Homo sapiens: one gene and its partners. The protein of the gene in region 3 purifies or fractionates together with the protein of the main gene of each other region. This does not show direct contact. Each region holds a gene or a part of one and is shown on either strand. Other genes may lie near its edges.

Region 1 (3,615 bases), on a different chromosome or scaffold from region 3:
TGTCAACCTGAACATGTCGATGCTGATAAATTTTGAAGCCCTCTAATCAGACAGCAATCATGTATTGGTCCTGATCATCTGGCTATGCCCTGAAGGTCATAATTCATATACTGTGACACTAGTGAGTGGGACAGAGAGTTAATATTTCTTCAGCTCCGGCTGTGTATCTGATAGAGCCTCACACACACAACCCCACATAATACTTATCAACTTTACGAGACAAATAATACCACCCTTATTTTTCTACAAAATAGACATAGGTTCAAAGAGGTGGAAGAATTTGCCCGAGGTCATTTAACTAATCTGAAACTTGAGTCCAGGTCCACCCTCCCTCCACCCATGACACCTGCCTTGACCGCCAGGCATTCTGCACACTCCCTCCCTTCCTAATGCCACCCCATCCACCAGCACATCCAACTTGCTGAACTACAGTTGTGGACACATTATAAACTGAATTCTATCCAGAAAAGGCAGGTTGAAATAAAAAAGGAGGGTGGGAAGGAAGAGTCTCTTAATCAATAAGAAAATATGTTCACCACTCAGTACAAGAAAGAAAAAAAAGGTTAAAAAAGCGGCAGCTTGCTCATCGTTTCCATACAGTTTTATTTGCAATTTGTTGGAACCATGGAGAACAATCGGCAGATACACATGTTGCTTCTGGGAACAGCATTCAACTCCAGATGCTTTTTCTGCTAAGGAGCAGGGCCACAGGTGGCCCTCACACCCAGTGCTGTGCTGCGCGGAGGGCTGTACTGAAGGTTCTGAAGGCCTGGTGAGTCCCCCTCACGGCCAGAAGGAGAGACCCGGCTTCGGCTTCATGGCCGGCCTCCCGCAGGTGTCTGCCCAGCTCCTCTGCATCCCAGCGCCCTTGCTGGAGGCTAGCCAAGAGGTGGTCAACAATACGTGGATAGAAGGGAGTGGAGACACACTTCACCAGCAGCTTGGCATCCAGGAGCAGGGAAAGAAGTTCTTGGTCACAATTGGAATCATTCACCTTCAAGAAATAAGACAGGCACAGCGTGAGGGGGTGTTTGCTTTGTTCGCCTCCCCCTTGGATCCCTCGCTCTCCACTGGGCTGCCTTCATCATCATTCATGCCCTGGCCTGGGTTTAAAAGCGTGTGTGGGTCACGAGCACCTCTGAGGTAGGTCACAGATTGGGATGACAGACGGGGCTCCTCTTAACATAAGAAGACACAAGAACCCCACTGCAATCATCACTACAGCTTCCAGATACTGGGTGCCAGAAACTATTCAACACTGTACCAGCATCTCTTCACCAAGGCCTTCTGATTCAACCCCGTGACTGGCACTTTTACCTCCCAATTGACAGAAAAGGAAACTGAGGTGTAGCAACTTTGCTTAACATTGTAACCAGTTGTAGAGCCAGATTGTAAATTTGGGTCAATCTTGACATCAAAGTCTGTGCTCTTAACAACCACATTTACTGTTTCATTTGTACTTTCACTGTGATCCACATTCTTTAATGCTGTATCTTTCTTGAATATAAATACACATGAAAAAAATTTTTTTGGAACAAGAAAACCTTTTTTGTACTCCATTGAGAGAAGAGTATGTCCCTCAAGCCCACTGATACGAGTAAGATAACCAACAGTGGGGTTTTAAACTATTTTTGCTTCAGCCTCTAGGAAGCTCAGTACCAACCTTGCCTTTTAAAAAACGGTTTCATAGGTTCTTTCAGTTTGCGTATTCTCTTTCTCCCTGGTCTTGTCTTCTAAATATATGTATTATTTTCAATATTTTTTTAAAGAATCAAGTCCACACTGATCATATTATCAAAATTCGGAGCTTCTCACTTACATTGGGGTATCATAAAACAGATTCCTGACAGGCTTTTCTTAACGTTACTGTGCCTTTTTAATAATTTGGATTGTAGGACTCTCAGAAATAATGTCAAAGCCAATTAACTAACGTTTAGACCAACTATATTATGCAACTGTACACAATGTGCTCTTCCTGCATGTTCTGTGACAAGGAAGAAAGGCTATTGAAGATGCGAAGGTCAACTGTGTCTACTTGTCTACTGACTGTGAGAATTAAAGCAAGAGAAGTACTGAGAATAAAATCCTGCCCACTATCGGATAGCGTGAATCTTTCCTACTACCCACAGGGGTCATTCAAAACCCAATGTAAACATCACCTCCAATGCCATCTTCTTGCTGACATTTTCTTTAACTCTCTTGGCCAATACTTGGGAGTATGACCAAGGATTCCTCCTTCCTCCATACTCCCAAGATGCCTGAGATCTGCCTCTTCATGCTGTATGATAAGTAATTTTATTTTATTTATTTCTTTTTTGAGATGGAGTTTTACTCTTGTTGCCCAGGCTAGAGTGCAGTGGTGCAATCTCGGCTCACTGCAACCTCCTCCTCTTGGGTTCAAGCGGTTCTCCTGCCTCATCCTCCCAAGTAACTGGGATTACAGGTGCATGGCACCACGCCTGGCTAATTTTTTGTATTTATTAGAGATGGTGTTTCACCATGTTGGTCAGGCTGGTCTCGAACTCCTGACCTCAGGTGATCCACTCACTTTGGCCTCCCAAAGGGCTGGGATTACAGGCGTGGCCACCGTGCCCGGCCTGTATGATAGTAATTTGTATGTCTGTCTCCCTTACCGACTGGGAAATTCTTGAAGGCACAGAAGTTTTATCACTTTTACATTTCAGCTCCCCATTTCATTAACATTTGTTAAATGGCTGAGTGAACCTACATTATGAAACTTTGTCACATTTTTGTAAACTGCACAAGTACACGATAAAGACCCTACCTCTCAGAGAGACTGAATAGAACTAGACTCCAGAACAGAAGACCCTCTCTGCAAACCCTCAGTGTCTTTTCTCCGGCCTCCCAATTCATGAACACTTGTACAGCCCACCTTTGACCCCACCTTTGACCCAAAACACTTAGGTTGAACTCCAGGAATTTACCTTTGTTTTTGTTTTTAGGAGCTAGATGACAGAAAAAGCCACCGGTTCAATGGACTTGCTTTTGTGCTGGAAGGGGCACGGAGCTTTGACTTCTCCTCGCTGGGGCTGCCTGTGAGTTCTGAATGCCTTCTTTCCATCCCACTTCTCTCCCTGTCTCTTCATGCCTAGCAAACAAGAGTCTCAACCCCACAGAGCTCCTGCCCTCAGCAGCACGGTGTCTACGTGCCAGAACCCTGAGAGGCCCTTGAAGTCTTCAGACATCCCTTCAAGACAGTTCTCACCTCCTCTGACAGAGGCAGGTTCAGTGAGGTCAAGTGTGATACAGTTGCTCCATGGTGGAGTGGCCTAGAAGCCCGTGTCTCGGCCTAGTTTACTTGTTTATTGTTTGTTTCCCTCCAGAACACAAGTTCCTATGGAGCAGAGATCTTGTCTCTTCTGTTCACCCCTGTATCCCCATGTCCAGAATGGGTGGTCACATGCTAGGAGCTGAGCAAGATTTGTGGAATGAATACCCAAGTGAATGAATCACTCCAAAGCTCACATTCTTTCAGTCTGTGTGGCTGCCTCCAGCCACGTGCATGCACATGCTAATGCGTGCACACACACAGGGCATCTGAGTTACTGTATGTGTTATCTTGGTTCATCCTTCAAAACAAAGAATCCCCCTGCC
Region 2 (3,755 bases), on a different chromosome or scaffold from region 3:
GCCTATTCCTTACACTGCTGCTGTCCTTTCTGTTCAAAGAGTGCAAATCATTTCATTCCTGTGATCCTGAATTTTATGTGTGTACTATTTAGCAGTCCTTACTGTTCAAATATACTAAGATATGAACTCAGTCATTTCTGGAATAAGCAAGTCCTATCTTCTTTAGAACAGTCAGCGTTTCCCCCCTTTAATCTGTACAAATGAGTGATTTGTATGTGGAAAGAACAGCAAGAATCAGAACCAGGAATATTTATGCTACAGGTACATAAGTGAGGCGGTATTAAGATAATCAGTAAAAAGTACAGTCATTCAAAAATATTTATAAAAATATCATTTATGAAATGACAAAACCAGTATTCTGCAGGGTGAGAACGGCACATCAGCTTGGTAACAATATTCCAGCACAGCATATAAATGCCATCAGTTATTAGTCTACCCTGGCCAGTACTTTGCATACATCATGCCCAACCTTTACAACAATCCTGTTATGTCCATTTACTGACATCACATTGCTAAATGCAGATCCCTTTGATTCTCAAGCCATGCTCTTTGTTCAGCCACTGCAAGTACAAACCAAATTCTGTTAAGAAAACTCATCATTGAACTGGTATTTTATCAACCCAATATCATATAATATAAATAGAATCAATCAAGCATTGCTCAAAGCAATGAGCCAGTGGCTAAGAATTGAAAATCAATGGAATTGAGACTTTCTTCTTTAAGGGGGAAAAAAAAAATCAGAAATGTGTGTTCCCAAAAAAAATTATGGATATGTCCAAACTGTGCCATAAATGTTAGATTAAGTTACTTTCAAATTTTTTTAATTCTAATAGCCCTTTCTCTATTTTTTTCTTCTAATTAAGTATATATTTTGTAAGTTTTCCATCTGAAATTTTATTACCAGCAATGAAGTACAAAGCAAAAGCAGCAGAGGCATGTCAGTCCAGATAAAATATTGTCACAAGCCATAAAATCATTAGAAACCAATGATGTTGCATGCTTTCTTGATGGCAACACTATCTGAGAGTTAAGTTGACACTGAACACTGAGTCAGCTTGGAAAATGTCCATCAGTGTCAAGGCTACAAAAGAAAATATTAAAACAGGACACCAATTTTTCCCCTTCCCACTGTTTATTTTATAGCTTTTGCATCAGGTAGTCAACTGAAACACTTCAACATCAGAAAGCTGGCAGAATGTTAAGGAAAAGGAGTGATTATCTCTCCAACAGATGTGACAAAATGGTTTCAAGTTGGAAACAGAATTTGCATAAATGAATCAACTGAATGGAGTGGGGGAGGGCAGGGAGAGAGAAGAGAGAAAGTAGTGAGCATCTTCCAACAGGACTATGAGGGAAAAAAAAGGCACTGTTGAGCTGTGTATTTATAAAATAAAAGTCAAAATACACAATCCATGTTTCCGAAAATTACATTCAACACTGCTTCAGAGATGCTCACATACCTGACTCTCAATAGAAAGCTACAAAAACTGTCTAAAAAATGAGATAGACAGCATCAATGTCTCAACACAGGCTTAACAGTAATGCGTTCTAAAGAGTTCATCACCATCAGGGTCCATTTTATAAATAGTACTGCAAAGGCCACAAAGCTGCATGAAATTACAGGATAAATCTGACTAAATGATCATTCATTTCAATCTCTAAAATTCCTGCTCCAAGAAATCAGAAAGCTCCACTCCAGAGGAGCTGAATTGGCAGTGGATTTGAAACAGGGTTGCTTTTCTCCTCAGAAGGCTGCCTAAAGAGTAGTTTAGTTGGCATCATACAGCAACTTTGCATAGGGTAAACGGATGCAAAAACATAACAGCAACTTCTCTGCTTCCTCTGAAAGTAAACAGCACTAATTTATGAAGAGGCCAACTCAAATCATAAAGGAGAAGCACCTGGGCCTCTTAAAGGCAAACCACATAAAAGGTTACAGGGTGCTTCTCTTAAGGATTCTAGGACCATAGGTGTGTTTGGGAATGACCAATGGAAAAATCCAGTTAGATGATTTACACAGATGTTCTCTATGTAGATTTGAATTTAAATTAAAATGCCAGCTATGCATTTGGGAACCAGCTTTTAGTTAAATTCTCTAGCACTTTTAGAATTATTTGATTTTATTAAAAAAGAATCATTGTCTACAAACTGTTTTCTAACAATGCAAATACAGTAAGCAAGTCATCTGCAATATCAAAATATTGTTTGTAAATCACTGATGGCACCAACGATTTGAGGAATTTCCAATAGGACACATATTGAGAAAAAGCAACAGATTATAGGCATTAACCAAATTTTAAGATCAGAAAATTATAAAAATCATTAAGTTTAAATTATCCAATTTTCAATAGCTTAAATCCAATCATCAGGAATTCAGAAGCACCCAATATGTTTGAAGTTGCACAAATGCATATGGATGATAGGAAAGTAATCCCCATGCAATATCTTAAGTGTTGCTATCAGATATATTTAAGTGCTACTTTACAGATTAAGCTGGGTAAAATCAAAATATATTTTACTTCCCATTAGATTTTAAAACAATCACAATAATTTATCAACAGTTGCCATTTCACAGCAATTAGAAAAGAGGAGTTGATACAAGTTGAACAGAAAGGTATCTTTTCTTCTTTTAGGAAATAAACATATATATATATATGTATATATATTTCACATACACACATAACATTATCTTTAAAATTCCAAGTGGTTACTTTTGTATTATAAAAAAATTATCTCCCTATGGTCAAAATACTGAAAAAGCGCAAAGGCTGAAAAAAGAAAACCACATTTGCCACTTTAAAAAAATACATTATTGTCTCAGTGGTTCTATTTATTTAATTGATTATAAAGTATTATGACTCCTAGTACTGTACTGGACCTGATGGAATTAAATACACCCCTTTCTCAGTCTCCAGAAAGGATACTCCTAACCCACCCTAAAATATGATAAAATAAATGCCCCTATTCTGAACTGTTAAACTGGGAAATAAACCATGCCCACCTGGAAACAATATAAGTCATAAAAGTTTATGAATCTGTGGGAGAGACTACACGAATCAGAAAGCAATTCTTTGGATATAAGTTAGGAGCTTTTAGAAGTATATAAACTCTTTTAGGCATCTAGAGTAGAGACACAAAGAGGATTTCTCCATAAATAATGATTTGGCCAGTGCAATGGTTGGTTGCCCATGGTCTGCATCTGGGATGTCATCTGTTTTTGTAAATAAAGTTTTATTGGAACATAACTGTGCTCATTTGTTTACATAATGTCTATTGCTGCTTTTGTGGTAAAATGGCAGGGTTGACTAGCTGTGACAGAGACCGTATGGGCTGCAAAGCCTAAAATATTTACTCTCTGGCCCTTCCACAGAAAGTTTACTGACCTCCTGATCTAGTTCACCAAGTACTGCTCTAGTTACCTAAAAGAGTTAATGCACCTCAAGAAGATTTGAGCATGTGGTGCAAGAATAACTTGCATACTGGGTTTGTTCATTAGCATGTAATGTCAAACCACACCTTGAAGTGGTGCTTTATTTTGGGCGAGGAAATAATTTGTATACACTTTCAGGAAATACCTATAAAAGTCAATTTGAAAAAAGGAAAGAAAAAAGCCAAATTTAAAAAAAGCCTGCCTATGTTCTTTTAATATTTTTATATTATTGTGAGGAAAGGGTGCTAAGATGATTGTTCTGTCATTCTTTTAGTTTTTCTTTAGTTTATAAATGTTTCTTTTGTTTATAAATGTTTTCTCATAA
Region 3 (3,655 bases):
CAGTATATATTGGAAAACTGAATTGCCTTCCAAATGTGCTTTGTGTGTGCTGGAACTAGGTTAGCCTGGCTTTTACAGTGAACTTGCCTACAGTTTGCTGTTGGAAAGTTGGCGTAAGGTTTGCACTCATGTTATTCCGATGTACAGTTTTGGCTTTCTTGTTACTGAGTGGCAAAATTTATTGTATGCCTTATGCACATTTTGTGGTTGATGAAAATTTGGTTAAAAAGAATTATTGAAAATAGGGAATCGATTAACAATTGAATAACAATTCTACTTTTTATATAGTGCTTTAGTTTTATAGGTTTGGATAATCTTAAAAGACACATTTCTGAACACCAGCTCCAAGTGTTGATATCTGAAAGATCAAAATCCCTAAAGCCTAAGTTCCTAACATCTAAAATCCTGAAAATCACAAACACAGGGTAGTTGAATCATGTTTGGTGGAACCATTTTCTTGTTATTGTCTTTATTTGGAAATTAAGTATGGTTTAAGAAGATGTGCATGGTTGTCAAGTTGACAAGGGGTGGACTTGTGGACTTAATTTTACTTGTCAACTTGACTGTATTAAAGAATACCTAGAAATCTGGTAAGACATTATTTTGGGTGTGTCTGTGAAGGTGTTTCCAGAGGAAATGAGTGTGTGAGCCTGAGTGGATTTGGTGGGGAAGATCAACCCTCGGTGTTGGTGGGCAGCATCCAAACAGCTGGGGCCGGGATAGAACTATAATAATACAGAAAGCAAATTGGTCTTTCTCTGAGAGCTGGGACAGACTTTTCTTTTGCTGCCTTAGACATCAGAACTCCAGGCTTGCTGGACTTTAGACTCCAGAACTTACATCACTGATCCCCAGAATCCTGAGGCTTCTTCAGCCTGAGCCATGTTACCAACATCCAGTATAAATTGGAGGTATAAAATGTGTAGACTTTCAAAGAGTTCTAACTGATTTAATGTTTTTTTTTTTTTCAAATTTGACTCCACAAATGTACATTATCACAACATTGACTTTGTGTGTAAGCATTGTACATGTATATAAAAGCATTGAAACTTCCTCAGTAAATGAAGAGGTGTCCTTTTCATACATCTGCACTTGTGAAAGACAAAATTTCTCAAAATCTTGGCTCTTGTGGGTAGTGACTCGTTGTGTGTTTTGTTTTGTTTTTTTCCTGTCTCAGCCATTTTGGTTTTTGATCAATCTTGTCAAAAGACAAGAGGTTGTTCATCATAGTAATTCAGATGATTGCAGTTACGTAAAGCTGGGTGCACACAATTACCAATTAGAGAGATATATGTATACATTTCCCTTTTTGACCCTATTTCTCTATAAATATATTTCCTCTCATCTTAACTGTTATACCTCTGTGACTGTCATTAGTATACCTGAGTGTTTATGCTTACAAAAATATAGATTATCATTGGCTGTTTTTTTGTGTAAAGTGGCTTATGGAATGTTCTGTCATGTTGTTTATCAAATAAATCACCTTTTAAAAATGTAAATATCTTTAAAGATTAAAAAATTTTTTTTCCAGAATTATACTTTTAGGATTACAATGTTTAGGATTTCAGCTTTAGGGCTTCTGATCTTTTAGGATTTCAACATTAAGGATTAGGGAGTTCAGGACTGTATCTTTTGGGTATATGATTGGCTACCCTCCATTACCATCTTAACTGTTGATAGGATCAAGAAAGTAACCATTTTTGTATACTAAAAATTTAAGTGTGCTAACATCACCCAACTGATAAACAGTAGAGCCTGGAATTGAGCCCAGGTATTGTGGATCTGTAGCCCATGTCTTTAAACATGATATTCTAAACCTGCCACAACCTCACCTGTGGTAACCATTTCATGTATTATATTCTGTAACTCATGTTTGCTTACATATATCGTTTTATGCCGTGCATGCTCAACCATCCCATTATGTTCTTGTATTCTGAACAGAGAATTAATATTCTGGTTAATATGTTAGATATTGCCTATGCTTATTAATCTGTCTGTATTAGCTACTTATAGATCCTGCCATACCTCCCTATTTTTATGAATGCATCCTCTTTAGTTTCTGCATTGTTATAAAGAAATTAAAGTATCACTTCAAGCCATTGAAATCTATTGGTTGCCCAGCTTTCTAAAACAAGGCTAGGAAACTTAAATTTTATTTCAATAATATCTCTTGACGGTGATTGCCCTGTGGATTAAAATTTATATATATATATATATATATTAGCATTTTTGGTGTTCTTTTTATTTTACTCATACTATTTTTCTTTGGACTCAATCACAATAACAGAATTAAAGATCAAAGTGTAAAAGTTAAAGACCAGTACAGATTCAATAATTATTCTTTTCTACATACTGTGTTTAAATGATATCCCTTTTTCTTTTTGTTCTTTTTTTTTATTTTTTTAGTATTTATTGATCATTCTTGGGTGTTTCTCGGAGAGGGGGATTTGGCAGGGTCATAGGACAATAGTGGAGGGAAGGTCAGCAGATAAACATGTGAACAAAGGTCTCTGGTTTTCCTAGGCAGAGGGCCCTGCCGCCTTCCGCAGTGTTTGTGTCCCTGGGTACTTGAGATTAGGGAGTGGTGATGACTCTTAACGAGCATGCTGCCTTCAAGCATCTGTTTAACAAAGCACATCTTGCACCGCCCTTAATCCATTTAACCCTGAGTGGACACAGCACATGTTTCAGAGAGCAGGGGGTTGGGGGCAAGGTTATAGATTAACAGCATCCCAAGGCAGAAGAATTTTTCTTAGTATAGAACAAAATGGAATCTCCTATGTCTAATTCTTTCCAGACAGACACAGTAACAATCCGATCTCTCTTTCTTTTCCCCACACATCCCCCCTTTCTATTCGACAAAACCACCATCGTCATCATGGCCTGTTCTCAATGAGCTGTTGGGTACACCTCCCAGATGGGGTGGCGGCCGGGCAGAGGGGCTCCTCACTTCCCAGATGGGGCGGCCGGGCAGAGGCGCCCCCCACCTCCCAGACGGGGCAGCAGCCGGGCGGGGGCTGCCCCCCACCTCCCGGACGGGGCGGCTGCCGGGCGGAGGGGCTCCTCACTTCCCAGACGGGGCAGCTGCCGGGCAGAGGGGCTCCTCACTTCTCAGACTGGGCGGCCGGTCAGAGACGCTCCTCACCTCCCAGACGGGGTGGCGGCGGGGCAGAGACACTCCTCACTTCCTAGACAGGATGACGGCCGGCAGCCGGGAAGAGGCGCTCCTCACTTCCCAGACTGGGCGGCTGGGCAGAGGGGCTCCTCACATCCCAGACGATGGGCGGCCGGGCAGAGACGCTCCTCACTTCTTGTGGGGCGGGGTGGCGGCCGGGCAGAGGTTGCAATCTCGGCACTTTGGGAGGCCAAGGCAGGCGGCTGGGAGGTGGAGGTTGTAGCCAGCTGAGATCACACCACTGCACTCCAGCCTGGGCAACATTGAGCACTGAGTGAGCGAGACTCCGTCTGCAATCCCGGCACCTCGGGAGGCCGAGGCTGGCAGATCACTTGCGGTCAGGAGCTGGAGACCAGGCCAGCCAACATGGCGAAACCCCGTCTTCCCAAAAAATACAAAAACCAGTCACGCGTGGCGGCGCGCACCTGCAATCCCAGGCACTTGGCAGGCTGAGGCAGGAGAATCAGGCAGGGAGGTTGC

Evidence for each region.
Region 1: the proteins of SCFD2 (region 3) and NBAS purify together in Homo sapiens (affinity purification with mass spectrometry; 2 studies listed by BioGRID and IntAct, with this or other methods). This does not show direct contact.
Region 2: the proteins of SCFD2 (region 3) and HS2ST1 purify together in Homo sapiens (affinity purification with mass spectrometry; one large-scale study listed by BioGRID and IntAct). This does not show direct contact.

Annotation. Positions count from the first base shown.
Region 1 is NC_000002.12:15,166,330-15,169,944, forward strand, and holds the end of NBAS (NBAS subunit of NRZ tethering complex), read right to left. Parts: intron 995-3,615; coding exon 719-994; 3' UTR 587-718; downstream 1-586. UniProt on the Homo sapiens protein: Involved in Golgi-to-endoplasmic reticulum (ER) retrograde transport; the function is proposed to depend on its association in the NRZ complex which is believed to play a role in SNARE assembly at the ER. Required for normal embryonic development.
Region 2 is NC_000001.11:87,106,544-87,110,298, reverse strand, and holds the end of HS2ST1 (heparan sulfate 2-O-sulfotransferase 1), read right to left. Parts: 3' UTR 317-3,755; downstream 1-316. UniProt on the Homo sapiens protein: Catalyzes the transfer of a sulfo group from 3'-phospho-5'-adenylyl sulfate (PAPS) to the 2-OH position of iduronic acid (IdoA) or glucuronic acid (GlcA) within the heparan sulfate (HS) chain and participates in HS biosynthesis.
Region 3 is NC_000004.12:53,138,959-53,142,613, reverse strand, and holds part of SCFD2 (sec1 family domain-containing protein 2), read left to right. Parts: intron 1-3,655. UniProt on the Homo sapiens protein: May be involved in protein transport.